Regions from separate parts of the Homo sapiens genome. Here all the other regions are linked to region 1. The links come from fine-mapping of genetic effects on gene expression. A gene starts in region 1. Each other region holds a variant in brackets. All regions are shown on one strand. Distances are from middle to middle.

Region 1 (8,105 bases):
CTTGTTCTGGTCAGGCAGGTGTTTGCATCTTCAACCTTCAACCACGCAATGACTATGGTTTGGGAGAGCTTGTTCACTGGACCATGTCACTCCCTGCTTAAAACCCTTCAGTGACTCCAAAATGCCTATAAGATCAAGTCCAAACACCTGACCACGGCCACTGGGCCCTTTAAGGCCGGCCAGGCATTCAGGGTTCATCTTTTGTGCCTTTCAGCTTCATACTCCACAATGCAGGAGTACTAAGCCCCCTCAATCCCCCCACATGAGCCAGGCTTACTCTTTACCATCTGCCTTTGCACATACTCTTCCCTTTCTCTGAAACGTCCTTCCCCCTTCTATCACCCACTTCTTCCCCCCAGGTAACTCCTGCCATTTCTGCAAGATGCCAGTCTAAAAGAGGAGGCCTTTTCAGATCCCTCCCCCCACTCTGAGTTAGGGACCCTCCTCCAGGATATCAGTCGCCTGAGCTCACCCACGTCAGGGCACTTACACACCCTGTGTTTTCCAGGTGGTTTACTTGCTCTGGGAGCAAATTGTTAACACTTTGCCTTCATCCTCCTCATATTCCCGGTCCCCAGCACAGGGGTGGGTACAGAAAATACAAATAGTAAATGCCTACGAAATAAATGAGTCGGTTGGTGGCAAGTAACACTGTTTTACCTGTACTAGGAAACGTGTGAGAGACATACTGGCAAAATCAAACAAGTTAATGTTTCACTGGGCTGGGCAATGGCAAAATGAGGAGAGCCCTAACCTTATATTTATTTATATTTATTTATTTATTTATTTATTTTGAGATGGAGCTTCACTCTTGGTGCCCAGGCTCGAATGCAATGGTGCGATCTCAGCTCACTGCAACCTCCGCCTCCCGGGTTCAAGCGATTCTCCTGCCTCAGCCTCCTGAGTAGCTGGGATTACAGGTTCCCGCCAACATGCCCGGCTAATTTTTGTATTTTTAGTAGAGTCGGGGTTTCATCATGTTGGCCAGGCAGGCCTCTCCTGACCTCAGGTGATCCGTCCACCTCGGCCTCCCAAAGTACTGGGATTACAGGCATGAGCCACCGCGCCCGGCCTCATAACCTTGTATTTTAACAAGCACCGAAACAGGCAGTTAACCTTAGGCCCAATCTGCTTATAGAATAAGGAACAGGAACAGGAAAATCAAAAGGTTGGCTACACCAGAGATAACTATTTTGCCAATGAATATTTTCAAGCTGGGGATAAATGACAGAGACGGTTTTCAATATAAGGGTGGCAAATTTCCTCTGTAAATAAAAGAGAAAGATGCTAGGAAAATTAGCAAAAGCATGACCTTTGACCCAGGCTAGAACCACAAGCCCGTGCAATTGAGGGTGATGCTGCATAGTGTTCAAACTCTTACTGGGACATGCAAGAGCCTCCATTACCTCTGTGCCCACCTCTCCTCTGTCCACAACTGGCTCCTTACCTGCTCACCTGCACATGCTCCAGACTAAAGATCAGGAAAAGCTGGGGCCTCTCTGTGCCCCCAAGACCCTGCACTGGTTTCTCAATGCCCTTATCACCATGGACGGTCATTCAGGGCCATTAGACTAGGAACTCCTTTAAGGAAGGCTCTCGTGGGCCTGACACAGCAGGTGCTCACTTAACCTTGACTGTGTTCATCTATCTTTTTGAGAAGGGCTGTCCAGGCAGGCATCTGAGTAGCACTCACAGCCTTGGGAGTTCTAGAAGCCATCCATGATGTACGCACACAGCCAGTGCCCTGGGTAATGATGACAGGCACAGCTTTCAAAGCAGACTGTCCTGCCTCAAGCCCAGCTCTACTTCTTACCAGCAGTAACCAGGACAGACCCCTTTCTAAGGTAGCCACCTCAAGGGGCATGAAAAGGATGGAGTGAACACTATGTGCTAGCATGGCTGGAACATAGTAAGTGCTCAGTATGTCTCAGCTCTTACCTGGGGCACAGTGGAGACTGGCGAGTCAGCACAGTAGGAAACCAGCTTTGAGAGGCAGAGGGCTCTTAACATAAAAAACGGCACAGCTCGGTACTGCTTGCATTTATAAGGCACTTTTCACGTGGATTACTAGTGGTTAAGCTTCAAACAACCCTATAAAGTAGCTAGTGGTATCATAACTCACATTTCATTGATGAAGGGACTAATGTTTCAGAGAGGTGAAGTAAGTTTTCCAGGGACACGCTGCACTGGAAAGAGGGTTCTGCTAGTCCAAATAGGGAGCTCTATCGACCTGAACCGCAAGGATCCAGCCAGGAAGTTGAGATGCGGTTGGACAGCCTACACCACTTCTGCGCCAGGGGGAGGCTGCCCAGAACAGGACGCCCTCCTAGGAACCACAGAGTTTAGCAAAGAAAAGTTTCCCTCTGTCCTGGGTGATTGAGGAGAGCTGCATCCAACAGGCCCTTGCACGAGACCAAATGCGTCGTGGGCACGCGCACACACACACAGACACACGGTGCAACCCGCCCTTCCAGGCCACCTCCGTCAGCCTCAGGCTCTCAAGGAAACCTCGGTTTCCTGGGGAGCCCGAGCCTAGAACCATCCCGACTGGCCTCCGAAGTCAACTCCTCCCTTCCACACCCCCAAGTGCAGGTTTCGGGTTCAACTCTCTGAAGCCGCCTCCCCAGTCCCGCGCTAGGCACCGTCCCGACTACTAAACGGCACTGGGTACCTAGGAGTTGCCTCAGCAGAAGCGCCGCGCCTGGCACGGGTCGGGCACACACTGCATTCGCTGGGCGAAGTGGCCATGCCTGGGTCCCCGCGCCGGGCAGCATGCGGTGCCCCGCAGGGCTCGGCCGAGGGTGGTGGAGGAAGGGGATGCCCCGCGAAGCGGGAATTCGCACCTCTCGCTCTCTTACCTTCCTCATTCTCGTCAAACACGGGGGGCTTGTGGGAGTGGTTCCCGCCCATATTCCGCCGTTGCTGCCGCTGCTACATGCCCGGCCGCTGGGATGCCGGATGCGGGATGTGGGACGCGCGCAGAGATGCGGGATGCCGGGGGCGCGCCCAGTCCGGGTTGTAGCCGCGCGCGGAGCCCGAGGGGGCCGAGCACCGTGCAGGGGCGGGGACGGCGTCCCCCTTCTCCTGGACGCCCTTCCGACTGCGCTCGCAGGGACCCCGCTCTCGCCGCGCCTTCCGCCGTGCCCCGCCTCGGGCTGCGCTCGCAGCTCCTTACTCCAGTGCCCGCCCGGGAACCCGGGAGCTCCTCGCGCCGGGGCCAACGTGCGGCGCTCCTCGCCGGCTACAGCGGGCGGGAGACGCGAGGCGGCGCGGGAGCAGGGGAAGGAGGGGAAGGAGCGGGGGAGGAGGGGACGGACGAAGGCAGCACGCAGTGGGCGGCGGCAGGGCGGAAGGAGCTGAGAAAGGGATCGGCCCGGAAGAATCTGAATCCCTGCTCGGCCCTCCTCCCTCGGCCGGGAGCTCGGTCCCTGCAGGCAGTAAGCGGTTTGTCAGCACCCACTATGGCCAGGCCTCGGCTACGCGCTTTGTTAGCACCATCCCACATCCGCCTCCGACAACCCAGCAGTAAGAAAGCATCGTTCATATTTTAGAGCGCAGTAGACGGAGGTCTAGAGGTAGAGGGGCTCTTAGGTCTGTGGTTAGTCGGCCCCGGCTGCGAAGGGAGTCCCAGGACTCCCCGCTAGCCTGTATTTGCCCATTCATATTGGGATGGGCAGTGGAGTGTCTGCTGGCTCTCCAACCGACGCTGTTCCTCTTAAGGTTTTTCTCAGTGTTTAATGAATGAAAGTATCTGTTTACTTTCTGACCCCTTAAGATTAGATACTAATCTGACCCCTTCATTGTACATGGGGAAACTGAGGCCCCAGACAGCCATAGTTTGCCCCAAACCATTCTCCCTGGGAATGGCTGGGCATGAGTCTCGGGATTCCCCCAAAATTGGGCGGCATCGGCGTCCGATTTAGGGGCGAGGCTAGCATGAGGGTCCCTGGGCTCCTGCGGCGGGAGCCTGGATCGGGAGATACGCGCCACAGTTGCGGGTGCCTAAGTAAGGGGTGCGGCAGATGCGCCCCAAGACGTGTGGGGCGAGCGCGGGTTCCCAGGACGCTCCCTGAGGGACAGGCAGGTCCCCCTGCCTTGCAGTCCTGCGGGCCCAGCTCTCCGGGACTGCAGGGAATCTTTGGCTACATCCTGCCATCTGCTGGGCGCCTGGAACCACTGTCCGTGCTTTGATAGAAAGCAGGGGTTCTTTGTGACTCTCTCCATCCTATCTCGTCCCCCAGTCCCCGTCCCCTACCTGGTCTCTCTCTCCAGTTCTCTCCCCTTCTTTCTTTTTCTTGGGAGAAGGGTGAGGGAAGCCGGGGAGACTCATACAGAAACAAAACAAAACAAAACAAAACAAAAAATCTCTTAAAGGCAGTGGGAAAGAACTGAGAAGGTCTGAGGCAGGCCCACCCACCATGACCCAGAGCTGGCTCTACCATTTACTGGCAATGTGTCCCACTTTGGAGTTCTTATCTGCAAAGTGGGCTGATTGATATTAACTCCTTGGGTTGTCTGTGAGAATTATATCAGGTAATATTTATAAAAGCAGGCAACAGTGCCCGGCATATAATAAATGATGAATAAATATTTCTTGCCTTTCATTCCACCAACAAGCATACACTGAGTAGCCAGTGTGCAGCAGGCAATGCCCTGAACACAGAGCTGGCCCCTAGCTCAAGAAGCATAGGGCGGAATGTGGACAGGCATGGGCTCTGGGCTCATTCTACCCAGGTTTCATTCTGCTTTGCCCCTCATTAGCCAGTTAACTTGGATAAATTACTTAACCTGTTCTGGACTCAGTTTCTTCATCTGAGTCCAGAAGGTGCTAATAAGAGAACTTTCCCTTTCTAACATTGTTATGAGGAATATATTGATATTGTGCTAGGCCGGGCGTGGGGGCTCACACCTGTAATCCCAGCACTTTGGGAGGCTGAGGCGGGTGGATCACCTGAAGTCAAGAGTTTGAGACTAGCCTGGCCAATATGGAGAAACCCCATCTGTACTAAAAAAACAAAACTTAGCTGGGTGTGATTGCCAGGCCTCTGAGCCCAAGCTAAGCCATCATAACCCCTGTGACCTGCACATATACATCCAGATGGCCTGAAGCAACTGAAGAATCACAAAAGAAGTGAAAATGGCCTGTTCCTGCCTTAACTGATGACATTACCTTGTGAAATTCCTTCTCCTGGCTCAGAAGCTCCCGACTGAGCACCTTGTGACCCTCGCCCCTGCCTCCCAGAGAACCCCTTTGACTTTAATTTTCCATAACCTACCCAAATCCTATAAAACTGCCCCACCCATATCTCTCTTCGCTGACTCTCTTTTCGGACTCAGCCCGCCTGCACTGAGGTGATTAAAAAGCTTTATTGCTCACACAAAGCCTGTTTGGTGGTCTCTTCACACGGACACGCATGACAGAAATGTCACCCACCTGTAATCCCGGCTACTCGGGAGGCTGAGGTGGGAGAATCCCTTGAACCTGGGAGGCGGAGGTTGCAGTGAGCTGAGATTGTGCCACTGCACTCCAACCTGGGTGACAGAGTGAGACTCCGTCTCAAAAAAAAAAAAACAAAAGAAAAGAAGGCATTGGCCAGAGAGGGTGCTGGCGCTGAGACTGGAAGGGCAAGGAATCAACCGGGTTGGAAGAAGAAAGGAGGCTACTGGTGCAAAGTTCTCCAGGCCTAGAGAGTGGGACACTTTGCAGATGCTGGGAGATGTTCCACACGGCTGGAATTAGTCTTGCAGTGCAGTGTTCAGTGACAGCGTGCATGTGTATTGAGAACTCTGCATGTCCAGCTCTGTGCTAACTCTTTGCAGGGTGCTAGGACCTCCGGCAACCCCTTCACTTCTCTGCTCCCCATCCATAGAGAATGTGCCTGACTCTGGTACTTCAAGCGCTCTGCATGGATTTTCTCATCCTCACAGCAACCCTGAGAGGTAGGTGTGTCACCATCCCCACTCTGGAGGAGACTGGGGCACAAATAGGCTAAGCCAACTCAAATGGTTGAGAAGTGCAAAGACCTAAGATTTCAATGCAGAAATTGGCCAGGTGTGGCGTTTCACGCCTATAATCCCAGCACTTTGGGAGGCCTAGGTGGGAGGATCACTTGAGGTCAGGAGTTCGAGACTGGCCAACATGGTGAAACCCTGTCTCTACTAAAAATACAAAAATTAGGCCAGGCACGGTGGCTCACACCTGTAATCCCAGAACTTTGGGAGGCCAAGGTGGGTGGATTACCTAAGCTCAGGAGTTCGAGACCAGCTTAGCCAACACGGTGAAACCCCATCTCTACTAAAAATACAAATATTAGCCAAGCGTGGTGGCAGGCACCTGTGACCTCAGCTACTCGGGAGGCTGAGGCAGGAGAATTGCTGAAACCTGCAGAGAGTTGCAGTGAGCCAAGATCGCGCCATCGCACTCCAGCCTGGGCAACAACAGTGAGACTCCATCTCAAAAAAAAAAAAAAAAAAAAATTAGCCAGGCATGGTGGTATGTGCCTGTAATCCCAGCTACTCAGGAGGCTGAGGCAGGAGAATGTCTTGAACCTGGGAGGTGGAGGTTGCGGTGAGCCAAGATTGCGTCACTGCACTCCAGCCTGGCAACAGAGTGAGACTTTGTCTCAAAAAACAAACAAGTAAAAAAAAAAAACAGAAAATTATTCCCTCACCATTCTGGAGGCCAGAAGTCAAAATCAATCTCCAGAGTCTCCATGCTTCTTCCAGCATCTGGTGGCTCCAAACATTCCTTGGGTGGAGGCTGGAGAACTCTGGTCTCTACCACCATCTTCACATGGCCACCTCCTCTCTCCCTGTGTCATTTCTTCTCTGTCTCTTGAAAAGACACTTACTGGATTGAGGGCCCACCCTGATAATCCCAGCATGATCTCTTCTCAAGATCTTTAACCATTTGCAAAGACTGTTTTCCCAGATAAGATCACACATACAGTTCCAGGGGTTAGGACTTCAACATATTTTACTGGGGGCCACTGTTCAACCCCCACATCTACCTAGTGGCAAAGCTCCTGTCTCCAGGTCATGCGTTGACTCACCACCTGCCACTGCTCCCTGATTTCTACCCGGCTTTCCTGTCATCCAGGAGCCCTGCAGGGCAGCCAGGGCTGTGTGTCCCCAGGGTCTTGCTCAGCACTGGTACAGAGTTGATACTTTACAAATATACGTTGATGGAATGAGTGAATGATGGTTTCAGATGTGTTGAAATGGAGATTTTGTCAGAAACATTGTGAGATGCCCCTCTCTATTAACCATCAATCAGACCTCTGGACTTTTATTTTATTTTTATTTTTATTTTACTTTAAGTTCCGGGATACATGTGCAGAATGTGTCGGTTTGTTACATAAGTAGACATGTGCCGTGGTGGTTTGCTGCACCTATTGACCCCTCCTCTAGGTTCCCTCCCCTCATCCCCCACCCCCCAACAGGCCCTGGTGTATGTTGTTCTTCTTCCTGTGTCCATGTGTTCTCATTGTTCAGCTCCCACTTATGAGTGAGAACATGTGGTGTTTAGTTTTCTGTTTCTGTGTTAGTTTGCTGAGAATGATGACTTCCAGCTTCATCCATGTCCCTGCAAAGGACATGATCTCATTCCTTTTTATGGCTGCATAGCATTCCGTGGTGTATATGTACCACATTTTCTTTATCCCATTTATCATTGTTGGGCATTTGGGTTGGTTCCACAATTTTGCTATTGTAAACAGTGCTGCAGTAAACATATGTGTGCATGTGTCCTTATAGTAGAATGATTTATATTCCTTTGGGTATATACCCAATAATTTGACTGCTGGGTCAAATGGTATTTCTCACTCTAGATCGTTGAGAAATCACCATACTGTCTTCCACAATGGTTGAACTAATTTACATTCTCACCAACAGGGTAAAAGTGCTCCTGTTTCTCCACAGCCTCACCAGCATCTATTGTTTCTTGACTTTTTAATAATCACCCTTCTGACTGGTGTGAGATGGTATCTCATTGTGGTTTTGATTTGCATTTCTCTAACGAGCATTGATGTTGAGTTTTTTTTCATGTGTTTGATGGCTGCATAAATGTCTTCTTTTGAGAAGTGTCGGTTCATATCCTTTGCCCA
Region 2 (8,105 bases), 27 kb after region 1:
TCAGACTCTTTCATTTGCCAGGGACAGAAAGAAACCTCACTGAAATCAGCTCAAGCTGAAGGAACTCTGCATTAGCTCTGCAGCCAGAAATGACCGCAGGGCAGCTGATGATGTCCAAGAAGGAGACGCAGGTCTCAGCCTCTGGATCTGGAAGCAGGGATGCAGCCCCTTCAGATCCTCTTCCTCCATCCATCTCCCAGCTCTGCTTGTGTACCTCCTGGTCTTGCACACTCCAGAGCAAAAGACTTAACTGCTGGCAACGACAGCATAGCCATGGTAGGGGCATGAGAGGGCAGCTCTCATCCTGTGTGCATCTTTCAACACCAGGTAGAGACACTGATTAGTCCCTCCTGAGCCATGGGCCCATCATCACTCCTGTAACAGGAGGGAGGAAGTAGACCAAGATGGGATTATGGAACAGGGTTGATAACCAGAAAGAACAAAAACCAAAACCACAGTCACTCCAGCTTTTCATGTTTATTTCTTCTTCACAAAAACTGTGCAATAAGTGGTATAAACCCCACATCAAAGGAGGATGAGTAATGGCCACATTTGCACAGCTGCATGGTAACATAAGTGAGATCTAAACTGAAGTCTGTATTACTCCAAAGCCTGTAGTTTTTCTCCTAGGACAAGCTGGGACCCTTCTTGAAGGACTTTCTCTGAGTCCTTTCTGTGTACCAGGCCTGGGGCAATGTTTGGGACACAGCTCCTCCTGCCTGCTGTTTCTCATTAAAGTTCAAATCCATGTTTTGGGGGCTTATGAAGGAATCTCTCTTCTAAAACATGAATCGCTTTTCATAATCTCTGCCCAAAAGCAAAGCCCAGCCTTGGTGTTTGTGTTCATTCCTTCACTCTGGGCCATGTGGGCCAACTTTCCACCTGGGTTTGCCAAGAGCAAAAGCAACAAGCTCAAAAACACATCACATAAACAGGGGAAGATGTGTTACTTTTAACCAAAGGAATACCAATATCAACAGGAGCACCAGAGGCAATGTCCGGCTAGGTATTCAGTCTACCCCAACCCCAACACCTCCTGGCTGTCAGCTTGATTAGTGGCTCCTGACCTCAAATGCAGGCAGAAGTGAGGGAACAAGAGGTAGCCTCTTTGCAAGCGTTGATGTGTTCAATGCTAGGCTCTTACCTTAGCACTCAGACTCTTCGTGTGGTCTAGTGCAATGTTTTCTAAAAAAGATGGAAGCTGCTGCTGGACTCTTCTAATCCTTGTCAAAGACAGCTATTGGCTGCAGGTTGGGCAACAGAGGACATTTGAGAATGGTGATGTCCATTTCAGCCTGGGTTTCCATCACAAGTGGGCACAGGATGGGAACACAGGGAGCAGGCAGGAGAGGTGATAGTCTGTGTTCCAGCCATGTCACAAGAGGCCACAGCCAACAGCAGGTTGCTGTTTCTTACAGTTCACTGGTGATATGGTTTGGCTCTCTGTCCCCACCCAAATCTCCCCTTGAATTGTAATAATCCCCATGTGTCGAGAGCATGAACAAGTGGAGATAACTGAATCATGGGAGTGGTTTCCCTTATACTGTTCTCATGATGGTGAGTGAGTTCTCACAAGATCTGATGGTTTTATAAGGGGATTCCCCCTTTGCTCGGTTCTTATTCTCTCTCCTGCCACCTTGCTAAGAGATGCCTTCTGCCGTGATTGTAAGTTTCCTGAGGCCTCCCCAGCCATGCAGAACTGGGAATCAATTAAACCTCTTTTCCTATAAATTACCCAGTCTTGGGATTGGACTAATACATGAGATTGGACTAATACAACTGGGAACATCCCATAACCCCTCAGGACTGAAAACCAAGAGTATTTCCCTGGTTACCTGTATCACTTATTGGAATATGCCTGTCTGAACAGCTTGCAGGAAAGGGTTAAATGCTCTTTCTCCTGAAATGATTTTTAAAAGTCTCAGATCCTGAAAATATTAGATCACAAGAAGAAAACAGAAGGTACTTAAGCAATGGGCAGCTGAGGTTTGGTATCTGCTGGAAGGATCTCCTCATCATGTGTATGTCTGCTGCTGGGATAAGGTCTGCACTGGGAGGGAGTCGTGGAGGCCTGGAAGGGAGGCGGCTTAAGAGAGGTGTCGGTCATGGGACATGGTGTCCTGGACCACCCTGGGCTGTGTTAGAGAAAGAGACAAGCGTACTTCACATTGTGGTAATGTCTCCGCCCCACCTCACTTACCCCATCCCAGGGTGTCTCACCTTCATGGCCCATTAGTGGGCTAGGCCAATATGTGTGATCACATTGTTCTTGTCATAGTTTAGAGGGGACTCCTCTGTTGGGCCAGTACCATAGTCTGAGTTTGAGTTTCCCCAAAAGCTGACTCTGAGACAAGGATTTGAGTGCAAGACGTTTCTTTGAGAGCAAGCCCAGAAAACACTTGTAGAGAAATGGGAACATGAGACAGAGAAGGACAGAAAGCCAATACATCCATGGATTACCATCAAGCAAGTTCTCACTGTGGACCCCTAGAGCTTGATCCTGCTGGGGGACTTTCGGAGACACTGTAGAATTCACCTCAGAGTTATCCCACCAACAGGGTAAAGGAGTAGGGATATTTACACACCAATGAGTTAGGAGCTCAGCTGAGCTGAGACAGAGCTGAGCTGCAGGTGTCTAAGCAGCCAAGTTAAAGCAAGAGCCAAAAATGAGAGTTAAGCCTTTGGTCACTCACTGCAATGGTCTAAGGAAGAGGCCAAACTAGAGGAAGCCCAGCTCCCCCGTTCCACCTCCCCCCTGGACGGGTGCTTCCTCACATCCTCACATCACTATGGGGGATCAAGTGGACCAGCATAGATGTGGAGGTGGGGGTCGTCTCACTGTTGAGGGAGCCCCAACAAAAGGTTCCTGCTGGTCTATGGACCACGGCGGAGGGGGAGGCAGGGAAACAGCCCCGAGTAGAAAAGTGCTGGGTCCTGAGTCAGAGAAGGGGGAAGGGTGTCAAGGATTCCCCCCTCCCATACTCGGAGGTCTCTGCAGAGGCGCCTGGGGAGGACCTGGCCCAAGTCCTCAGATAAAGAGACCCACGAATGAAGGTGCCAGGCAAATAGGTAAAGGGTTTGGCCAGCCTGGGGGCCTGAGCATTTTACAGCAACTCCCTTCAGAGATTGCATGCAAAGCTCTGGCTGTGTCCCAAGCCTGGGGTTGGGGG[T/G]GCAGCTCCCCCGATCCCCTTGGGGGCCTGTTGTGTAAAGCCGTTGTAACTGCCCATGGATGACATACAGATTTTTAACCAGAAGCCAGACTCTTCCCAACTTTCATGAATCATCGGTTGAGGGCTACTTCTGGGAGGCATTAAGAGTCCCCAATACTCTGGCTTGCTCTAACGTGGGCAGAACAGGCACCTATGGCCAGAGGAAGGCCTGTCGCAGAGGGTGGTGCTGGCAGGTGAAGCCTAGCCCACCTGCCCTTAAATGTCAGGGCTGAGGAGGCTTGGACAGGGCATAGGCAGGGTCCGCTTCCAGCACAAAGCTCAGGACTTTCTTCAGTGGTCACAAGGGAGACCCTACTTCTCAGGACAGGGCCTGGCTTTGGGATGGAGCTAATGGTATATGTGTCAGTTAGAGCTCAACCCAAGAAGCATGACCAGTGGCAGAGAGATATTAAGAGATTTAGTACAAGGAATTGGCTTGCATGATTGTGGACATTGGCCAAGTACAAAATTGTAGTAGGGTAGGCTTTCAGGAAGTGCAAACTGGAATCACCAGAACAGACAAAGCTACTCCACAGGCAGAACTCTTTCTTCCTCAGGGAAGCCTTGGCTGTGCTCTTAAGACCTTCCAACTGAGTAAATCAGGCCTACCCAGAGTATCTAAAATCATCTCCCTTACATAGAGCTTATTGCATAAGGACTCTAATTACATCTACAAATACCATCACAGTAACATCTGGATTAGTGTTAGAATAACTGAGGATGGTAGCCTAGTCAAGATGACACATGAAAACACTATCACAATATAGAACAGAGAAAGAGATAATTCCTTAGTGACTTCATTGAGTTCCTGGATCAAACCATTCCTGAGCTCCAGATTCCCTCTATATTTTCAAATTGCACTTTCCAGAAAACCCAGACTTTGGTGTCTCATGCTGAATTTTCTGTAACACACAGCCTACAGTCCTAACTGACATAGGAAAGGCTCAAAACTGATAGCCTCATTCTGACCAGATCTCCCAGGAAGGGTTGTGTTCCAGTCTGGGTCCCACATAGTGTAAGACTCATGGACACACAGCAGGGTTTGTGTCTGGGAGCCAGGGAGACTTTGAAACAAGGAGGAGCAAGATTGAATTTCTGCTTTAGAAATGGCCACCGGGAGGAGATAGGGCTCTAGACAGAGAGGCGTTAATCGTGATGTAATTGAAGGGTCTTGAGGCCACTTCTCATTAAAAGGGTTCACGAAGTGGGGATGGTAGCTCCAAAAGAGAGTTGACTCTGTTTTGAGGGGCAGGGAGGAGTGGAGGTAGAGACATTGAAGAATGAGAATGGTCTTAACATCGCCACACCTCCGTTCTGCATAAGAAGGTACAGGATTTGAAGGCCTGCACCAGGGTGTCATCGCATCTCATCTCCACCCTGGGAAGAATTTGGAGCTGCCCAGAGACTGGAAGGAAGTTGTAAGAGGCAAAGAGCTCCCTGTCCAGGGACGTATGCAAGCAGACTCTGGACAAGCACTTGACAGGGAGACTGTAAAGGAAGGATAAGCAGCAGGCAGGTAGATCTGGATAATTTCTAGGTTCCCACATTAATTTCTGTTATTCTACCAAACCCCAGAGAGACAGTATGCTTGTTTCCTGTGGCTGCTGTAACAAATCACCACAAACCGAGGGACTCCAAGCATCACGAATTTATGATCTTACAATTCCGGGCTCAGAAGGGGTCTAACTGGGCCCGTTTTGGAGGCCCTAGGCAGGAATCTTTCTTTGCATTCTAGAGGCCTCCTGAATTCCTTGGCTTGTGGCCTCTTCTCCCATCTTCAAAGCCAGCAGCACAATATCTTACAATCTCCCTCACTCTCTGTCTTTCACAGAGACACACACAAACACACACATATACACACACACACACACACATGCCTTCATACCTACCCCGCTTCCCCACTGCATTCGTCACCTCTCAGCTCTCACCTGATAGGGAGCAGCTGCCAGTGATGGGTTAGGGGCTCCAGAAACACTAGGATTTCTGCCATCACACCACTCACCCAGAGTGTCAGCTGCCCTCATCAATCTCCTCCGAGAGGATAGCAACTCTGTCATTCACTGTCTTTTCACCCATCTCAGTGCCTGGCACACAACAGACTCTCGATAAATAGATAGACATGCATCTGGCAAATGAAGAACCCATCCAAAGGCAATGGCCGATATCTACCTCAGAGATGTTCACCTGCTCGTTAACTCTGACTCTTCAGCTCTCCTGCATGATGGGGTCCGTGCCCGATGTAAGACATTAAGAAAACCAGAAGAGACCTTTTGGCGGAGACAAGGGCTTACCTGATTTGTGGGCAAATTCCTGCCTGGATTTTTAATATTCGGAGCAGCCAACTGCTGAAGGAGCCTCAGAAGGGGGCAGAGAAAGAGCTGGTGGGAGGATGCAGGTGATTCGTGGTGAAGGAGACATTTGAGAACAGAACACACGTGCGGGGGTCCACCAGCCTGTATCCAGTGCGGCGTCTCATAGGGAGCCCCTGGTGGGGAGCCACGTCAGGCTGTCCTGCGTAGGTTTCTTAGTGGGCTTGTGCCTTAATCTCTGAGTAACACGAGTAGTCACCAAGTCCATTCAGCCACACCTTACTGGTCATCCGCTCTACCTGGCTGCGTGCTGGGTGCCGAGAAACAGATGAGAAAGACTGTCTTTCTCTCCTAGAGAAGGGCATGGTCATTAAAGGAGACAGATGCCAGGAGGCAAGTCAATGTATCATGCATAGGATGCGGAGGAACCCTGGAGAGGGCCAGAAAGCAGATAGAATTCCCGGATGCACACTGGCATGCATTGGGCTCGGCAGGCAAGCTTGTGTGTGTTGGGCTCGGCACAGGCTGTTTCTCCTTGTCTCCACCTGCCCTGGGAATCAGCACGAGGCACCCTCTCCTCTGGTGTTCTTCCCATTCATCCCACTCCTGGCTTGGTAGAGTGAGAGGTGGCGATTCTCTTGCACCTGGCCCAGTGCACAACAGCCTCATTCCTTGTCTCCCCACTGACTGTGACTCCTCAGGGGCCCAGCATCCACCATATCTCAGTTGGTACCAGTGACAGCTTATGGCTACAGCCACTTACTCATTCATTCTCATGCTCAATGGGAAGGCCTATAAGCCTCTTTGCAGCTCTGAGCTCAGCTGATTTACCCAAGAAGTCCCATGAATAACCACACACGGTATTGCGGGTGGAACAAGGTCAAGTCTCCCAGCAGTACATTTATCTCACAAATGACTCCTGTTTTCCAGCACAGCAATGTCTCCTTGATCTAATGGTGCAGGACTTGTTTGGTCCATGGGCTTGTTTTTCTTCCCTGCTCTGAATTTAAGCCCATTCCTTGAGCACATCCAGAAGCCCTAGAGCATTTTAAAGCAGACCTAGAGTCCCCAGCTGGGGCCAGCTATTCTGCCAGGGAGGCCCATGCCCCAGGCACTATCATGGAGGGAGTGTGGAGACTCCTTCACCCAGAAGAAAACACATCTGTGCCTCCACTTGCCACCTCCAAGCACACACAGTTCTGCCCGAAGGCCGCGGTCCCTATGTCATCTTGCTAAAGGTGTTTAGAGAACACATTCTCACCTACAAAACAGGAAGGCACAGCTTACAGTCCCTGCCCAGGGCTTTTACCACCAGAAACTAGATAAATAAAACACTGGGGCTGGAAGGAACCTCAGACATCGCCCAGCGTGATGCTATCCTGTTTACAGACAGGGAATGGAGGCCAGGTCGAGAAGGGATTTCTCCTGGCAAATACAGTGGGGACAAGCTGGAGCCGGGCTTCATCCCTGTGGTTGATCCTCAGTCCAGCCCTGTGTCCAGGATGCCATGCTCTGGTTCACCCATCCCTGTGGGCTGCATCTTTGGTTGTTTTGTTCTGGGAATGTGGAGCTTGCCCAGGATGCTCCCCTTTCCTCCTTTGTTGGAGGAAGCTTTGGAGGCAGGAAAGTCCAGACATAGCTCCAGGGCTCCACTGCTCTTCCCAGCTTCACATCCCCCGAGGCCCTCAGTTTCCTCGCCTGGGAATTGGGAATAACCCCATTCACTTCATTGGCTGGCTGTGAGGGTCATAGCGTTCCCAATGGCAGCTGGCCTGGTGGCTGCTGGTATGTAAGTCATGTTCAGTGTTAAGGAAGAATCTTCTCCCTTTTGACAGTTCCTTCTTGCTTGTTGCCTGATCTTGGGCAGCCTGAGGACCCCAACTCATCTCTGCCTGCAAGAGTCCTGCTCCTCACCCATCCTGCCCTGTGGGATGGAAGAATGGCAGGAGGACAGGGCCTGAAGTCTCATCCCAACCCATGTGCCTCCAGCTTTGTGACCTCCAGCAAGTTGCTGGAACTCTTGAGCCTCAGTTTTCCCACCTGGAAAATGGGACTCTTTTCTGTGGCACCTACCTCACAGAGACAATTGCTGGATTTAACAGAGACAGTGCTATTAGCTCCGATCACTTGGAAACACACAATGGGCCTGGCATGAGGCTTGCTCAGTCATGCTATATCCTGTTGATTCCTCACTATGGCCTTTTGAGTGAGCCACTCTCACCAGCCTCATCTCACAGATAAGGAGATGGAGGAAACACTGAAGAAACTTGCCCAAGGTCAAAGCCAGAAGGCGGTGACCCTGCTTTGCACCCACGGCGTCTAAGTGGAGAGCCTAGACCTTTACCTGCCACTGTCTTGGGAAGTTAGCCCTGAGGGAGATGCACTTCTTGAAAACTAACCCTTCCTGAGGGTCTGCTCTCCCTCGGGGCCTGTGCTGGGAGCTTGAGGTAGAAGAGGGTGGGGGTACTCACACTCCCCACACATACGGCCGCTCAGTGAGCCCATCCTCCGGACCGAGAGACACACACGGCTTCTGAGAGGCTGGGGGCCCTGGCCCAAGGCTCACCTACCTGGTTAGCGATTGATG
Region 3 (8,105 bases), 370 kb before region 1:
ATGGCATGAACCCAGGAGGTGGAGTTTGCAGTGAGCAGAGATCACGCCACTGCACTCCAGGCTGGGCAACAGAGCAAGACTCTGTCTCAAAACAAAAACAAAAACAAAAACAAAAACAAGATACAAAAATTAGCCAGGCATGGTGGCATGTGCCTGTAATCCCAGCTACTTGGGAGGCTGAGGCAGGAGAATCGCCTGAACCTGGGAGGCAGAGGTTGCAGTGAGCCAAGATCATGCCATTATACTCTAGCTTGGGTGACAAGAGTGAAACTCTGTCTTAAAAAAACAAAACAAAACAAAACAAAAAAACTGTCTCGAACTTCTCCAGTGGTCCAGGATCTACACTCCTTGACATCAATTTGCTTTTCGGAAACAGCATGAAAGCAGTCAGAACGAATCGGTAGGAATACAGAGGAGGCTTCTAATGGGAGCTGCTGCCCTTACCTGGCATCTCTCTTCTCAGCACTCCCCTGTGGGATGTCCCCCTCAGCCTCCACGTGCCCCTTCCAGCACAGCATTCTTGAGCCTCAGAATCGGTTCTCTGCCTTCCTGCATCCTCCTTGGGGGATCCTGTCCACTTCCATGGCTGTGCTGCATCTCAGTGCTGGCAGGTTCTCCATCCACATGTCCAGTCTGCATCATGCCACTTCACAAACCTACTGCTCTTGCTGGGTCCCCTACAGAGTGAGCACCACTCTGCTGCACAATCCAGAGACCCGAGAAGTTGCCGTTGCCCCCATTCTCCATCCCATCAGTTGCTGAATCTCGCCCAGTTGATCTCTCTTGAATCTCAAGGCAGTGACCTCTTTGGTCAGACTTGCCCCAGCTCCAGGTCCTTCCAGAAAGCGATCTCAGAAAGGTCGTCAACAAAAAAAGCCTTGTTGGAGTAAGTGTTCAGGCTCCCATGAAGACTACTTATAAGTGAATGAATTCACTTATATGGATATCTGCTGGTATTTTTGCTAAAAAGGAGTTGCTGTCATGGGAGTCCAGGTTGAGATGTACTTCAGAGCTTGGGTTTTGGAGTCACATTGACCTGGGTCTGACTCTTGCCAACAATGTCAACATGGGGAAGTCACCCAACCTCCTAAGCCTCCATTTCCTTAACTCTAAAATGGAAAGAAATACTTGTGTCTATTTCATGTTCGAGGGCATTAAAAGAAGTTATAGGTTATAGTTAATGTGCCTGTCTTCATGTTAAATGAAATTATAGGTGGAAAGCACTTAGCTCGGTACCTGACATATAGTAAATACCCAAAAACAAGTTGCCTATTATTTATACCATTGCAGGTATTTATAGTCAAACTTCATTTATTCTATTTATTTAATAAATCAAAGATTAATGACATGAGTAGTGGATTCTAGGGATATGATGGTATAGATTTTGAATCTCCCCAAATCTGCATATAAAACAGAGCAAATAGATCACTAAACCAAAAACTCATGGATGCATTTGCTACAAAAATAAGTTCTCCTTACAACCCTCAAAATACAGGTGGGTAGCAGCAAAACACAACAGTGACAAGAAGCGCATGGTAGTGATTTCTACACGGAAAGAAACCAAGAGAAGCAACAAAGCAGCATTCTATGGACCAGAAAACAAAGAACTCCAAAATACTCAGCAGGTATTCACTGGGAAACACAGACAACGACTTTGAGAACAGCGGCTGAAGCTGGTAGGAGTTTGTACAGTCTAGTATCAGGGGCATTGAAAGGGCTCTTGATAAATTCTGAAGGAGACTGAAGAGTCTGGGACATCAAAAGTCTATAATCCACCCAGCCACAACTCCTTCCAGGAAAAAGCCCCAAGGAAAAACTGTGTGAAGTAGAACCAAACTGCCTCAGGACAGAGACCCTACAGACAAAGGAAAGAAGAACTCCAGATAAAAATGGGAGAGGAGAACAAAGCCAGGAAACCTGGATAGCAAGCTGCCTTAGATTTTGACACTTCACCAAACAATACAACAGATAGGTCTGTTAAGTTAGGAACGCTATCCTGAACCACACCATCTTCTAAAAGTTTAGAAAAACAAAGTTCACATAAAATGAGCAATTTCTACCCCTCTCTCTTGCTGGAGGCCCCTCAGCTGGCTCTATTTTGATCTCAAGTCTAAAGGTGGAATTTATCCTTCCAGGGAAATAGTCATTTCTTTTTATATCTGTAAGGAAGACAATAAGAAAGTTATAGCCGATCCCCAAAAACCTAGTGTTCATGAAGATAGATTGGAATTTAGGCTTTGCCAAGGGCTCAGGGAGGTCTCTTCTTCCTCAGGCCATGTGGAATTCAAACCCTCCACCATGTCCAAACTAAGCCTCCTCCCCCACTGCAATACCCATGTGCAACTCTAACTCCTCCAGGCGGTTTTAGGCACTGTTTATGCGGTCAGGGAAGAAAGATTTTGGTTGTTTAATTCAATATACAGTGCCTTATAAGGCACAACCTGGCCAGAGTTAAGTGAGGCCAAACTGGGAACAGGGCATTTTCACTGCTGAATGACAGACAGCAGCAGAGAGTTCAGCCAAGATGGTGGACTCCTCATCCCAGTGGTTAGTTTTCTGCGGCAAAAGTTGTACCTCTGGTTAGGTACCGCCTATAAATGCTTCATCCAGTTATCAGATTCTATGCTTCCTAAGGCCTCCTTCTTCCATTTGAAAAAGGAAAATAAAAGAAAAACATTAATAGCAGTAACCATTGGAAGAAAGGTATGGAGAAATATGGGCTTTAAATGTTTGTGCACCTTTGTGCAGCACTGATTACATTTTCTAGCCTTAAACATGTATTTCTTATATCATTTGCAATGGTAAATGGGGATTATCTAGGCATAAAACTCATGCATATGATATATTAATAATCATCAACAATTACTGAAACAAAAGAGCAACAGAAAAGTATCAAAGTCAAATTCCATACCAAGTTATTATAAGTAAAAGGAGAATGAAGAGCAGAATAACATCATTGCAATAAAAACACACAGAAAGATGTGCTGATAAAACAGAATGAAACTATAGCCTACGTTTCAAAAGAGTTAAAAGACACAGTGATGGGTTGTTTCATTAATGGTTCCCCAGTGCATCAGCCTTCTGATAGCCATGCTCCATGCAGTTCCCTTCCACGTGGTTGGCTATGTGACTTGCCTTGGCCAACAGAACACCAGGAAATGTGAAGCAGGCAGAGTCCTGAGAAGCATGGGAGAACTGGCTCTACCATCTTGAAACTGCATGTGAGGAAGCTCACTCTAGCCACTTTGATGATGAAAGACCACATAGAGAAAGAATGATATGTTCATCTCAGCTGTCCTAGCTGAACCTAGCTCCCAGCTGACCTACCAGTTGAATGCGTCTTCATGAGTGAGCCCAGCCAAACCTGAGGAAAAACCACTTGGTCAACCAAAAGAATTGTGAGAAATAACGTTGTGATTGTCTTAAACCACTATGTTTTGACACAGTTTGTTACACAGTAATTGATAACAATATAGACATTCAGAATTAACACGTAATAAAGATATTAACAAAATTATATAAGACCTGAAAAACAACATTAATTAGAATAAAAAACTCAGAAATCAGGTGGGAGAACTTAGGGAGAAAGAAATAAAGGGAAAATGATTTCAGAAATGAAGACTTCAGTAGAAAACACACAAAACAAATAAACACAATAGATAATGCCTTGGGAGAAGAGAAATATAACAATGAGAACATTTTTAAAGAAATGAAGGAAGAGGTAATAAAGATTTGAGGGACACTGACAAATGCTGAAGATTGGCAAAGAAGATCCAGCATTCAGATAAGAGGCATCCATAACCAAGAAGATAAAAACAAGAGAACAGAATGCAAACTAAAAACAATAATCCCATAAAAATTCCTTAAAAAACCATTTAAAACTACACATTGAAAGAACACTGTGTGCCTAAGAATGTAGACCTAGAATGACCACCACCAAGTTAAATTCTGGAAAATACTGAACATAAATGGAAAAGAAAATACTTGTTTTGTTTGCCACCCTCTCAAGCCTGAGCCATGGCTCTCTGGCTGAGCAGGAGTTCTCTAGAAAACCAAGAGGAGAGGGGTTGTCTAGCAGAGGAGACAGCTTGGAAAAGGTCCAGAGCTTCGAGGGAGCATTGTATCTACTGGGAACTGTGGAACCTCATGTGAGCATGGGAGGGTATGTGGCAGCGGGCAGTGGCAGATGAAACAAGAGAAGGATGCTGAGTCTTAGGCAGTGAGCCCGATCACATGAAAAGAAGGGGCCTGGAACACTCACCCATGTAGGGCTTGGTGCCAGCCATGGAGGAAGCCCTTTCTGCTCCTTTCACTACCGTCGCTATGTTGAAGTCTGTAATGTGAACATGTCCTGCAAATACAGAAACAGAAACTCCAGTTAGC[G/A]TGGGCTGCAGGCAGCTGGGTTATTTAAAGCTGTGGTTTGCAAGGTGAGATACCGTGAAGAAAACATTAGAACTTCTATTTATAATACTATCGTATCTGATACTTTAAAAATGTTTATTTTGTGTGCATGTTTCAGAATGTAAATTCATTTGGTAACTTATGCATATTATTTTTACATAAATATATTGAGGGGCAGGATACATTTTTTATGAATTAAAAGTTTGGAGACACTGATGTGGAGAATTAAAGCTCCTAGAAATAACTGAGACAGGTCACTCCAGACGCCTTCTCTCAGGAAAACTGTAGGTGGGCTATGGCTGGGGCGGGGGTAGGTGAAGAGGATTCTCCCACCCAGAGGACACTGTTTGTTCTGCTGTTTGTCCGCTATGGTCATTGGAGACCTTAGTACTGTAATTGAGGAATTTAGTAGGGAGAAGGCTGTGGTGTTGAGACCACCTTCCATCCAGGATGAAGTGATGGCAGCAGATGGGCATGGATAGGCTGGGTGCACCTACAAAGTAGGTGTTCAAGAAACATGACAAGGAAGGAAAAGGGAAAGAGAAGAAGGGAAGGAAACTAAGTGATGTGCAGATAAAAGAGGGAAACAGAAGAGAAGGAAGGAAGGGGACAGGGAGGAAGGAAACACCCAAATGGTCAGTACTTGTTTTTTGGGAAATTTTGGTCAGTACTTGCTTTTTGGGGAATTTGGTACATATAAGACTCCAGCTCAGAAAGCCTTGGATAATAGTTATAACTGCAATTACATTTCTCTCTATTTGTCTGTCATCACATCATGTGAAAATGGCTGGCTGGATTTTCACCAAACCTAAGAGTGGCATTTGGCATGTGGGACTTAAATGCATAGATGGGTGGCACATGCAAAATTGACTTTGAGGGACTTGGAAGGCATCACCAAGAGATGGGAAAACACATTCTGGAGCAGGTGCATTGAGGCATGCTGAGAAGCCCATGGGACTACATATGGGAGGGGCATGCCTGATGTGATCGGCTACAGTGGACAAAAAAAGCACCAGCAGTTTAACATACCACCCTCTAATCTCAGACTCAACTGCCAGCACTGACATGTGAGCAAGCTGCTCAGCCAACTATCTGTCCAGTGATCCTAGGTGAGATGCAGCAGCAAGGTATTTATTCAGTGAGGATCCATAATACTCTTCAGATACTTGTGGATGAAGCTGAAGTCACCCAACCAGGTCTTTGCTGGGATGCACAGTATTCCTACCTAGGCAACATTCCTAGAACATACCCAGGCTACTTTAGCCTCTGGGGCTTCCTCAGGCCCCTCCCTGTGGCTGCGATGAGTATGTCTCTATTCAACCATCCATGGTCCTGTCTGAAAAGTGGCAGTGTGTAGTAGTAGTTGGGTGCACACACTCTGAGCCAGACTGCCTTGGTTTGGGCCTCAGCTTTGTTGGGAGTAGCTGTATAACCTTGGGCAAATAATTTAATCTCCCTGGGCTTCAGTTTCCTCACCTATAAAATGGGATGATGATAATAAAATACCCATCTCAGAAGGCTGTCGCAGAAATCAGGGAGTTTATACACATGAAACGGTTAGAGTGATGGTGACATGCAGAAAGTAGAGAAGCTTCTCATAAGTGTTTGCTTTTAGCATTATTATCCTGCCGAGGAGTGGCTCAAAACCCATCTTCTCCAGCCAGGACAAATCTATCTCCTGCACCCTCCTATTCCCTTATTTCTAATACCAACAAGAAAGCAAACTCATTACTGTTTTGCACTTTGAGGCATGTGAAGGTGAGTGTATGTTGTAGTCACTGCTGTACCCCACACCCACACAGTTCCAAACAGAGTGACACATGTCAGCATTGGAAGAGGACTATGAAGCCTTCAAATATGGTTTTTGTTTGGTTTTCTTGCGCCTTCTCCCTCTTTCAAAAGTTTGGTATTTTCATTATGAAAGTGATGCCAGCTCATTAAAATAAGTGAAAGAATACAGACATGTTTTTGGGTTACCCCTTTAAGCCCCTCAATGTCTCTCCCACCCCCATGTAATCAATCACACAATTCATCTGGCTCCTCCATGATTTCTCTTTGCTTATGCAAATGTATATATGATTTCTCTTTGCTTATGCAAATGTATATCCATATATATGGGGGCTTTGGTTTGTTCTTGCAAACCAAATGAGATCATACTGCATGGGTCACTCTAAAAATTACTTTTGAATTTAGCCATGTATCATGGAGTGTGCCTAAGAATATATACCCACAGTGCTCCCCAATGTCCCCCAAGCTAGTATACATAGGTCTATCTATGACATCCACAATCCTTTATCCTCCATTCTAAGTCCAATTTTTTCCACAATTATTTTGGTGGTAAGATTTGACCCGAAACATTCTTTTTTAGTTTTATTTATTCCATTTTGGATGAATATCCACGTTTTGCGGTAGAAATATTAATGTATTTGATTACAAGGTGTTCCTCCAAACCTGTATGGAGTATTACATAGTATAAAAATATATTATTTAAGATATTATTACATATTGTGTTAAACACGTTATTTTATATTATTATCATATATGTTATTTAATATAAATGAATTTTTACATCTGAAAAAAATTCTAAATTATGAAAACATATCTGCCCCAAGGGTTTCAGATAAGAAGCCATGGACCTATAGTTACACAGTATTCCATAGGATGTCTGTATCATACAATGTATCATTTATTCAGCAATTCCCTATTATGGGTATTCAGGTTGTTTCCAATTTTGCTTGCTTAATTGTTTGTCTTGTTACTATAGAATATGTGACAAGAATTCCTGAATATATCTTTACATGTTAGTACTTTTATTTTGAGTAAATCCCCAGAAGTGGGATTGCTGGGACCAAGGGTACGCATATTATGTTCCAAAAAGTTATAATTGATGGCACTATAAACAGAATATGAGCATGTGTATTTCTCTGCACTTTGCCAGCACTAGTTGTTATCAGTGGTTTTGTTTTGCAAGTTATATGGTGAGAAATGTTACCTCGCTGCAGAGGAGGCTGCCCGTTTCCCATGTGATCAGCCTCTCAGACCCTTGGTCAGTTTTCACTGGGAGCTCCTTGTCTTCAAGATACATTTGCCCTTTTCTCTGCTATGTGTATTGCAAATATTTTCTCCTAGCCTATTGTTTGTGTTTTGACTTTGTTTATAGTGCCTTTTGCTATAAAGAAGTTTTAAAAATGCAAATAATGTTAATTTTGTTTTAAGTGTTGTTTCTCTTATAATTTTCCAATTTTCAGGAGCTACCCAAAATGATATCCTTTGTCTTTGGACAGTGTCATGCATGGATATGATTCCCTAGAACTGCAGAAGCTATTTGCGACCACAAGGAAAAACAGCATAAAGATGTAGGCTGTCCATGGAGAAGGCAGAGCTTCAAGTATAGCAGAGAAATGGTGCCAGAGCCTGATCAAAGCCTGCCTGAAGCCTGATTCCACTGAACTTCAGCTAAAAAATACCCTTTACTATCTAGGACTGTTTAAGTTGGGCTCTTTGTTCCTTGCTACTGCTAGTATCCCAACTGATGCAGACCCTTACTGACTATGTGACTTAGACAGGTTATTTAAGCTCTGAAAGCCTCAGATTCCTCAACTGTAAGAAGGGGATAATATTAATAGGGCCTTGTGGGGTAGTTATAGGGCTTAACAGGATGGTTAGGAACTGAGAACATGACATTTGAGCAAAGATCTGAAGAA
Region 4 (8,105 bases), 50 kb after region 1:
CATTTAAAACAAAACCAGAGACAGCCTTTGGGGTAGAGTGATATTCAAAGAGGTTCAGTAATTTGCTGAGGCCAGATCAGCCATAAAAGTGGTAGAATTCTGTCTCCAGACCCTGAGCTCCAGCTCTTTCCACGTGTGGAGGGATTCCCTGATGAGACCCTTTGGGGGGCTTTTCAGGACTGACATGTGCCTTTAGGAGTTTGAGGGGCAGGCCTGGAGCTTAGACAATTGCTCACGAGGCTCAGAGAGGTAGAGAGACCAGCCTGGAGCCACACAGCTGCTCAGCTGTAGAACCTCCAAAGCGCGAGTCCCCTCCCCTGACCCGCAACCCCCATCCCTCCTCAAGGTGTGCTGGGATAGTCAATGGCCTCCCGGGCCCACCCCTCCCCTGCTGGCCATCCACTCACCGAAAGCAGGGGTCTTGGGCTAATCTACCAGAAAGTACCAGAAGAAGCTGTGGGAGTGAGAGACCTTCTCCTCACCTCCTGAGGGAAGAACATTCCCTGCCATCCTCACAGCGCCTCATCAACCAGAGCAGATGCGAGTCCCATCCTGGCATCCTACCTGCTCCCTGAGGAAAGGAGAAAAAAATAAAGGTTGAAGCATCCCAGGCCTTGAAATCGTTCTCTAGGCATCCCTGCTGGTTTGTCTGTCCCTGCTGTCCCCTGGCTCTTTATCCTTTGCTGTTGGGTGTGGATTTTCACTCTGTGTTCCCTTTGCGTTCACGTCTTCAGCCACTTGTGAGAATTCCCTTCCCCAGCCATGGACTCAATGGGCTGTTCCCACCAGACTAGTCAGCCCTCCCCTCCCTCCATCCTTCCTCTTTTCTCCCCTCTCCATGCACAAGTCTGTAATTCTGGACCAACCCTCTGAGTTCCACCCCTGTGTATCCATGGGGTCTCCAAGGCTCTGCCTCTTACACTTTCCAAACCCCCAGCACCTGACCCCCCATTCTTCCCTCCCAAACCATCTCTCCTCTGCTCAGCTGCACATGGAAAGGTCTGCAATCATTCCGCGAGTTCACACCTTCAAGCAGCGTATTTTACTTTTTTAAGTGTTCTTTTGATTAAAAGTGGGAAAACAATGAAGGAACTGTTTACTGTAAAATTAGTCAAATACAGCAATTCCTCTTCTGAAGGCATAATATCATGGCTAAGACACTTATCTAGCAAAGAAAATTAATTTGTATGCACAGTTTTGACGCTGGAGAATTTACCTGGGGCCATAGTACCCTGGTGACAAATTGAAAACCTGTTCTGAGGAGGATCAGTGCAGAGGGTTACGGGCCACCAGGGAGAGGACACCCTCCACTCCTGTTGGCCTGCTGAGCTGAGACCCCAGCCAGCATGGCCTCGTCTCACTCCCCGGCCCTCCGTGGCTGTGGTGTCGTCAGCCTCTTATCAGTGTTGCAGACCACCTGAAATCGCTGATAAGCCTCTCACATCTGGCCTGGCCTCTCTTGCACTGCAGCCTGGCTTGGGAGGGGGAGCCCAGATGTCATAAAGCCACACTTGTTGTTTGAGTGACTTCTGTAAAATGGATTTATAGCTTCTGCTTATCTCTGGCCACAGGTGGTGCTTCCTCCAAGGAGACTGGGCCCGAGGAATAAGTCTCCCCTTCAGAGTGGGGATGCATTAGAGGAAGGAGCCGCCGCCCCTCCCCAGTCCAGCTTCAGACCTGTGGGCCACCCCCATCTTCACTGCACCTCTATTTTTTCTCTAATGCCCTGCAGTTTACAGAACATGGACAGACATGGTGGCTGATGTTACACCTTGTGTTTCAAAATGCAAAATGAATGAAAGATGTGTTCAGAACACAGTGGATATCTCCCATCCTAAAGATTACAATGAAATGGGATTTTTAGACAGTGATGTGGCTCACCTGAAGGCACAGGTGTCTGGCAGAAGCAGGCTTTGGACCACTTCCTCTAGTTTGAACACAAGGCTCTTCCCGCCAAGTGCCTTGGTCTCTCAGCTGTGGAATAACCCTACTCCCTCCTGCCTCCATGTTTTCTTTTCTTTTCTTCTTTTGAGACAGAGTCTCGCTCTGTTGCCCAGGCTGGAGTGCAGTGGCACAATCTTGGCTCACTGCAACCTCTGCCTCCTGAGTTCAAGCAATTCTCGTGCCTCCACCTCCCGAATAGCTGGATTACAGGTGCATGCCACCATACCCGGCTAATTTTGGGTTTTTAGAGAGATAGGGTTTTGCTATGTTGGCCAGGGTGGTCTCGAACTCCTGGCCTCAAGCGATCTGCCTGCCTCGACCTCCCAAAGTGTTGGGATTATAGATGTGAGCCAACACGCCTGGCCCTGCCTCCATGTTTTCAAAGATTGTTTTACAAAGTTCTCTTGTGTCCTGTGTTTTGGGAGTGAGATGGTTAACTGCTACCACCCCTAGGTGGGTGGGTGGCTGGGGCAGCAGGCAGAGGAGAGCTGGGGATACTTCATGGGGTTCCACAGGAGGCCTCCAGCTGCATGGAGTGAGGATTGTTTTGACCCTGAAGTCTTCCAACCTACTGGCTGCTTCTTGGTCAAAAAACAAAAAACAAAAACAAAAACAAAAAATAGGACAAACCCATTGACTGTGCAGTGGTATCACATAGGAGACAGTGGTATCAAAAAGTGGGCACACGTCAGGCCTCACAAAGTGGAGCAAAGGCCTGCGGTGGACCTGGCGAAAGGACGCAGCTGTTCTGTAGAGAGCAGTGTGGAAAGCAGTCTTCCTTGGTTGGATGAACCATGAGCACAGAACTCCCCAGTTACCAACAAAGGGCCTGATGCAGGAAGACTTCCTGGAGGGGAGGACAGAAGAGGACACCCTGAATTGCCAGACAAATAAAAGAGGGGCAGGAAGGGCATAGTAGATGGATGGTGTGGCTATGTGAGCCAGCCTGAGGGCTATCACATGGCTTAGTGCCAGGCACAAGACAATATCCAGACTTAAGAAGATGCACTCCTTGCTAAGGAGACTGGGAGGTTTGGACTGGGTGGAATTCACCCCAGCATGACAAAGCGGCTGTGGCCAGACTGCTTCTTTAGATTCTTCCTCACTGGGCAGGGCATCTCTGAAAGAAAGGCAGCAGCCCCAGTCAGGGGCTTATAGATAAAACCCCCATCTCCCTGGGACAGAGCACCTGAGGGGATGGGCAGCTGCAGACCCAGCTTCAGCGGACTTAATCTTCCTGCCTGCTGGCTCTGAAGAGAGCAGCTGATCCTGCCAACGGGGATTCTCCCAGCGCAGCGCCCCAGCTCTGCTAAGGTCAGATTGCCTCCTGCCTCTCAAGTGGGTCCCTGACCCCCGTGCCTCCTAACTTGGAGAGACCTCCCAGCAGGGGTTGACAGACACCTCATATAGGAGAGCTCCAGCTGGCATCAGGCTGGTGCCCCTCTGGGACGAAGCTTCCAGAGGAAGGAGCAGGCAGCAATCTTTGTGGTTTTGCAGCTGCCATTGGTGATATCCAGGTGAACAGGGTCTGGAGTGGACCTCCAGCAAACTGCAGCAGACCTGCAGAAGAGGGGCCTGACCATTAGAAGAAAAACTAACAAAAGAAAGCAGCAACGACAACATTAACAAAAAAGATTCACACATAAAAACCCCATCCAAAGGTCATCAGCCTCCAAGATCAAAGGTAGATAAATCCATGATGAGGAAAAACCAGTGCAAAAAGGCTGAAAATTCCAAAAGCCAGAATGCCTCTTCTCCTTCAAATGATCGCAACTTCTCTCCAGCAAGGGCGCAAAACTGGACAGAGAATGAGATTGATGAATTGACAGAAGTAGACTTCAGAAGGTGGGTAATAATGAACTCCTCTGAGCTAAAGGAGCATGTTCTAACCCAATGCAAAGGAGCTAAGAACCTTGATAAAATGTTACAGGAACTGCTAACTAGAATAACCAGATGACCTGATGGAGCCAAGAAAACACAGCATGAGAGCTTCTTGAAGCATACACAAGTATCAATAGCTGAATCAATCAAGCAGAAGAAAGGATATCAGAGATTGAAGACCACCTTGCTGAAATAAGGCATGAAGACAAGATTAGAGAAAAAGAGAATGAACAGGAACAAGCAAAGCCTCCAAGAAATATGGGACTGTGTGAAAAGACCAAACCTACGATTGACTGGTGTACCTAACAGTGATGGGAAGAATGGACCCAAGTTGGAAAACACACTTCAGGATATTATCCAGGAGAACACCCCCAACCTAGCAAAGCAGGCCAACATTCAAATTCAGGAAATACAGAGAACACTACTAACATAATCCATGAGAGGATCAACCCCAAGACACATACTCATCAGATTCTCCAAGGTTGAAATGAAGGCAAAAATGTTAAGGGCAGCCAGAGAGAAAGGTCAGGTCACCTACAAAGGGAAGCTCATCAGACTAACAGTGGATCTCTATGAAGAAACCCTACAAGCCAGAAGAGAATGGGGGCCAATATTCAACATTCTTAAAGAGTTTTCAACCCAGAATTTCCTATCCAGCCAAACTAAGCTTCATAAGCAAAGGAAAAATAAAATCCTTTACAGACAAGCAAATGCTGATGCATTTTGTCACCACCAGCCCT[G/A]CCTTGCAAGAGATCCTGAAGGAAGTACTAAATGTGGAAAGGAAAGACCAGTACCAGCCACTGCAAAAACACATCAAAATATAAAGACCAACGACACTGTGAAGAAACTGCATCAACTAATGTGCAAAATAACCAGCTAGCATCATGATGACAGGATCAAATTCACACGTAACAATATTAACCTTAAATGTCAATGGGATAAATGCCCCAATTACAAGGCACAGACTGGCAAATTGAATAAAGAGTCAAGACTCATGGGTGTGCTGTATTCGGGAGACCTATCACACACGCAAAGACACACATAGGCTCAAAATAAAGGAATGGGGGAATATTTACCAAGCAAATGGGAAGCAAAAAGAGCAGGAGTTGCAATCCTAGTCTCTGATAAAAGAGGCTTTAAACCAACAAAGATCGAAAATGACAAAGAAGGGCATTACATAATGGTAAAGGGATCAATGCAACAAGAGAACAGCTAACTATCCTAAATATACATGCACCAAATACAGGAGCACATAGATTCATAAAACAAGTTCTTTGAAACCTACAAAGAGACTTAGGCTCTTACACAATAATAGTGGGAGACTTTAACACCCACTGTCAACATTAGACACATCAATGAGACAAAAAATTAACAAGGATATTCAGGACTCGAACTCAGCTCTGGATCAAGTGGACCTAATAGACATCTCCAGAATTTTGCACCCTAAATCAACAGCATATACATTCTCAGCACCATGTAGTACTTATTCTAAATTGACCACATACTTGGAAGTAACACTCCTCAACAAATGCAAAAGAATGAAAATCATAACAAACAGTTTCTCAGATCACAGTGCAATCACATTAGAACTCAGGATTAAGAAACTCACTCAAAACTGCACAACTACATGGAAATTGAACAACCTGCTCCTGAATTACACTTGGGTAAGTAATGGAATTAAGGCAGAAATGAATAAGTTCTTTGAAACCAATGAGAACAAAGAGACAATGTACCAGAATCTCTGGGACACAGCTAACACAGTGTTAAGAGGGAAATTTATAGAATTAATGCCCATGTCAGAAAACTGGAAAGATCTGAAATCGACACCCTAACATCACAATTAAAATAACTAGAGAAGCAAGAGCAAACAAATTCAAAAGCTAGCAGAAGACAAGAAATAACTAAGATCAGAGCAGAACTGGAGGAGATAGAGACACAAAAAACCCTTCAAAAAATCAATGAATCCAGGAACTGTTCTTTTTTAATTAACAAAATAGACTGGTAGCTAGACTAATAAAGAAATAGAGAGAGAAGAATGATATAGACACAATAAAAATGATAAAGGGGATATCACCACTGATCCCACAGAAATACAAACTACCACCAGAGAATTCTATAAACACCTCTATGCAGATAAACTAGAAAATATAGAAGAAATGGATAAATTTCTGGATACATACACCCTCCCAAGACTAAACCAGGAGAAGTTGAATCCATGAATAGACCAATAACAAGTTCTGAAACTGAGGTAGTAATTAATAGCCTACCAACACAAAAAAGCCCAGAACCAGACGGATTCACAGCCAAATTCTACCAGAGGTACAAAGAGGAGCTGGTACCATTCCTTCTGAAACTATTCCAAACAATTGAAAAAGAGGGACTCCTCCCTAACTCATTTTATGAGGCCAGCATCATCCTGATACCAAAACTGGGGAGAGACACAACAAAAAAAGAAAACTTCAGGCCAATATCCCCGATGAAAATTGATGCAAAAATCCTCAATAAAATACTGGCAAACCAAATCCAGCAGTACATCAAAAAGCTTATCCACTACAATCAAGTTGGCTTCATCCCTGGGATGCAAGGCTGGTTCAACATATGCAAATCAATAAATGTAATCCATCAGATAAACAGAACCAATGACAAAAACCACATGATTATCTCAGCAGATGCAGAAAAGGCCTTCGATAAAATTCAACATTCCTTCATTTTAAAAACTCTCAATATACTAGGCATTGATGGAGCATATCTCAAAATAATAAGAGCTATTTATGACAAACCCATAGCCAATATCATACTGAATAGGCCAAAGCTGGAAGCATTCCCTTTGAAAACTGGCGTAAGGATGCCTTCTCTCGCCACTCCTATTCAACATAGTATTGGAAGTTCTGGCCAGGGCAATCAGGCAAGAGAAAGAAATAAAGGGTATTCAAATAGGAAGAGGGGAAGTCAAATCGTTTCTGTTTGCAGATGGCATGATTCTGTATTTAGAAAACCCCATTGTCTCTGCCCCAAAACGGCTTAAGCTGATAAGCAACTTCGGCAAAGTCTCAGGATACAAAATCAATGTGCAAAAATCACAAGCATTCCTATATACCAATAATAGACAAACAGAGAGCCAAATCATGAGTGAACTCCCATTCACAATTGCTACAAAGAGAATAAAATATCTAGGAATACAACTTACAAGGAATGTGAAGGACCTCTTCAAGGAAAACTACAAACCACTGCTCAAGGAAATGAGAGGACACAAACAAATGGAAAAAAAATTCCATGCTTGTGGATAGGAAGAATCAATATCATGAAAATGGCCATACTGCCCAAAGTAACTTATAGATTCAATGCTATTCCCATCAAGCTATCGACTTTCTTCACAGAATTAGAAAAACCTACTTTAAATTTCATATGGAACCCAAAAAGAGCCCATATAGCCAAGACAATCCTAAGCAAAAAGAACAAAGCTGGAGGCATCACACTACCTGACTTCAAACTATACTACAAGGCTACAGTAACCAAAGTAGCATGGTATTGGTACCAAAACAGTCATATAGACAAATGAAACAGAATAGATACCTCAGAAATAACACCTCACACCTACAAGCATCTGATCTTCAACAAACCTGACTAAAACAAGCAATGGGGAAAGGAGTCCCTATTTAATAAATGGTGCTGGGAAAACTGGCTAGCCATATGCAGAAAACTGAAACTGGACACCTTCCTTACACCCTATACAAAAATTAACTTGAGATGGGTTAAGGACTTAAATGTAAAACTAAAAATCATAAAAGCCTTGAAGAAAACCTAGGCAATACCATTCAGGACATAGACATCGGCAAAGACTTCATGACTAAAACACCAAAAGCAATTGCAACAAAAGCCAAAATTGACAAATGGGATCTAATTAAACTAAAGAGCTTCTGGACAGCAACAGAAACTAGCATCATAGTGAAGAGGCAACCTGCAGAATGGGAGAAAAAGTTTGCAATCTACCCATCTGACAAAGGTCTAATATCCAGAGTCTACAAGGAACTTAAACAAATTCACAAGAAAAAAAAAATTCAAAATGTGGGCAAAGGATATGAGCAGGCACTTCTCAAAAGAAGACATTTATGTGACCAAGAAAAATGTGAAGAAAAGCTCATCATCACTGAGAAATGCAAATCAAAACCACAATGAGATACCATCTCAAGCCAGTCAGAATGGCGATTATTAAAAAGTCAGGAAACAATAAATGCTGTTGAGGCTGTGGAGAAATAGGAACACTTTTACACTGCTTGTGG

What was found. PIP is the estimated chance that this variant, and not a neighbour inherited with it, causes the effect.
Region 2: its variant is fine-mapped to the expression of STK32B in whole blood (TOPMed, PIP 0.97). The same link has a PIP of 0.9 or more in blood mononuclear cells.
Region 3: its variant is fine-mapped to the expression of STK32B in B cells (Fairfax 2012, PIP 0.95).
Region 4: its variant is fine-mapped to the expression of STK32B in whole blood (INTERVAL, PIP 0.92).

Annotation. Positions count from the first base shown.
Region 1 is chr4:5,046,669-5,054,773 of GRCh38, reverse strand. It overlaps STK32B (serine/threonine kinase 32B), which reads right to left and starts at 3,294. Exons shown (of 12, transcript NM_018401.3): 1 at 2,859-3,294. The coding sequence starts at 2,910. RefSeq lists an enhancer at 2,054-2,592.
Region 2 is chr4:5,019,980-5,028,084 of GRCh38, reverse strand. It overlaps a transcript of STK32B not described here. Among named protein-coding and RNA genes, the nearest start is that of CYTL1, 4.6 kb to the right of the region's middle. The variant T/G (reference allele first, on the strand shown) is at 3,171.
Region 3 is chr4:5,413,091-5,421,195 of GRCh38, reverse strand. It overlaps STK32B (serine/threonine kinase 32B), which reads right to left. Exons shown (of 12, transcript NM_018401.3): 6 at 4,262-4,351. Among named protein-coding and RNA genes, the nearest start is that of LINC01587, 110 kb to the left of the region's middle. The variant G/A (reference allele first, on the strand shown) is at 4,384.
Region 4 is chr4:4,997,011-5,005,115 of GRCh38, reverse strand. No RefSeq gene overlaps it. Among named protein-coding and RNA genes, the nearest start is that of CYTL1, 18 kb to the left of the region's middle. The variant G/A (reference allele first, on the strand shown) is at 4,566.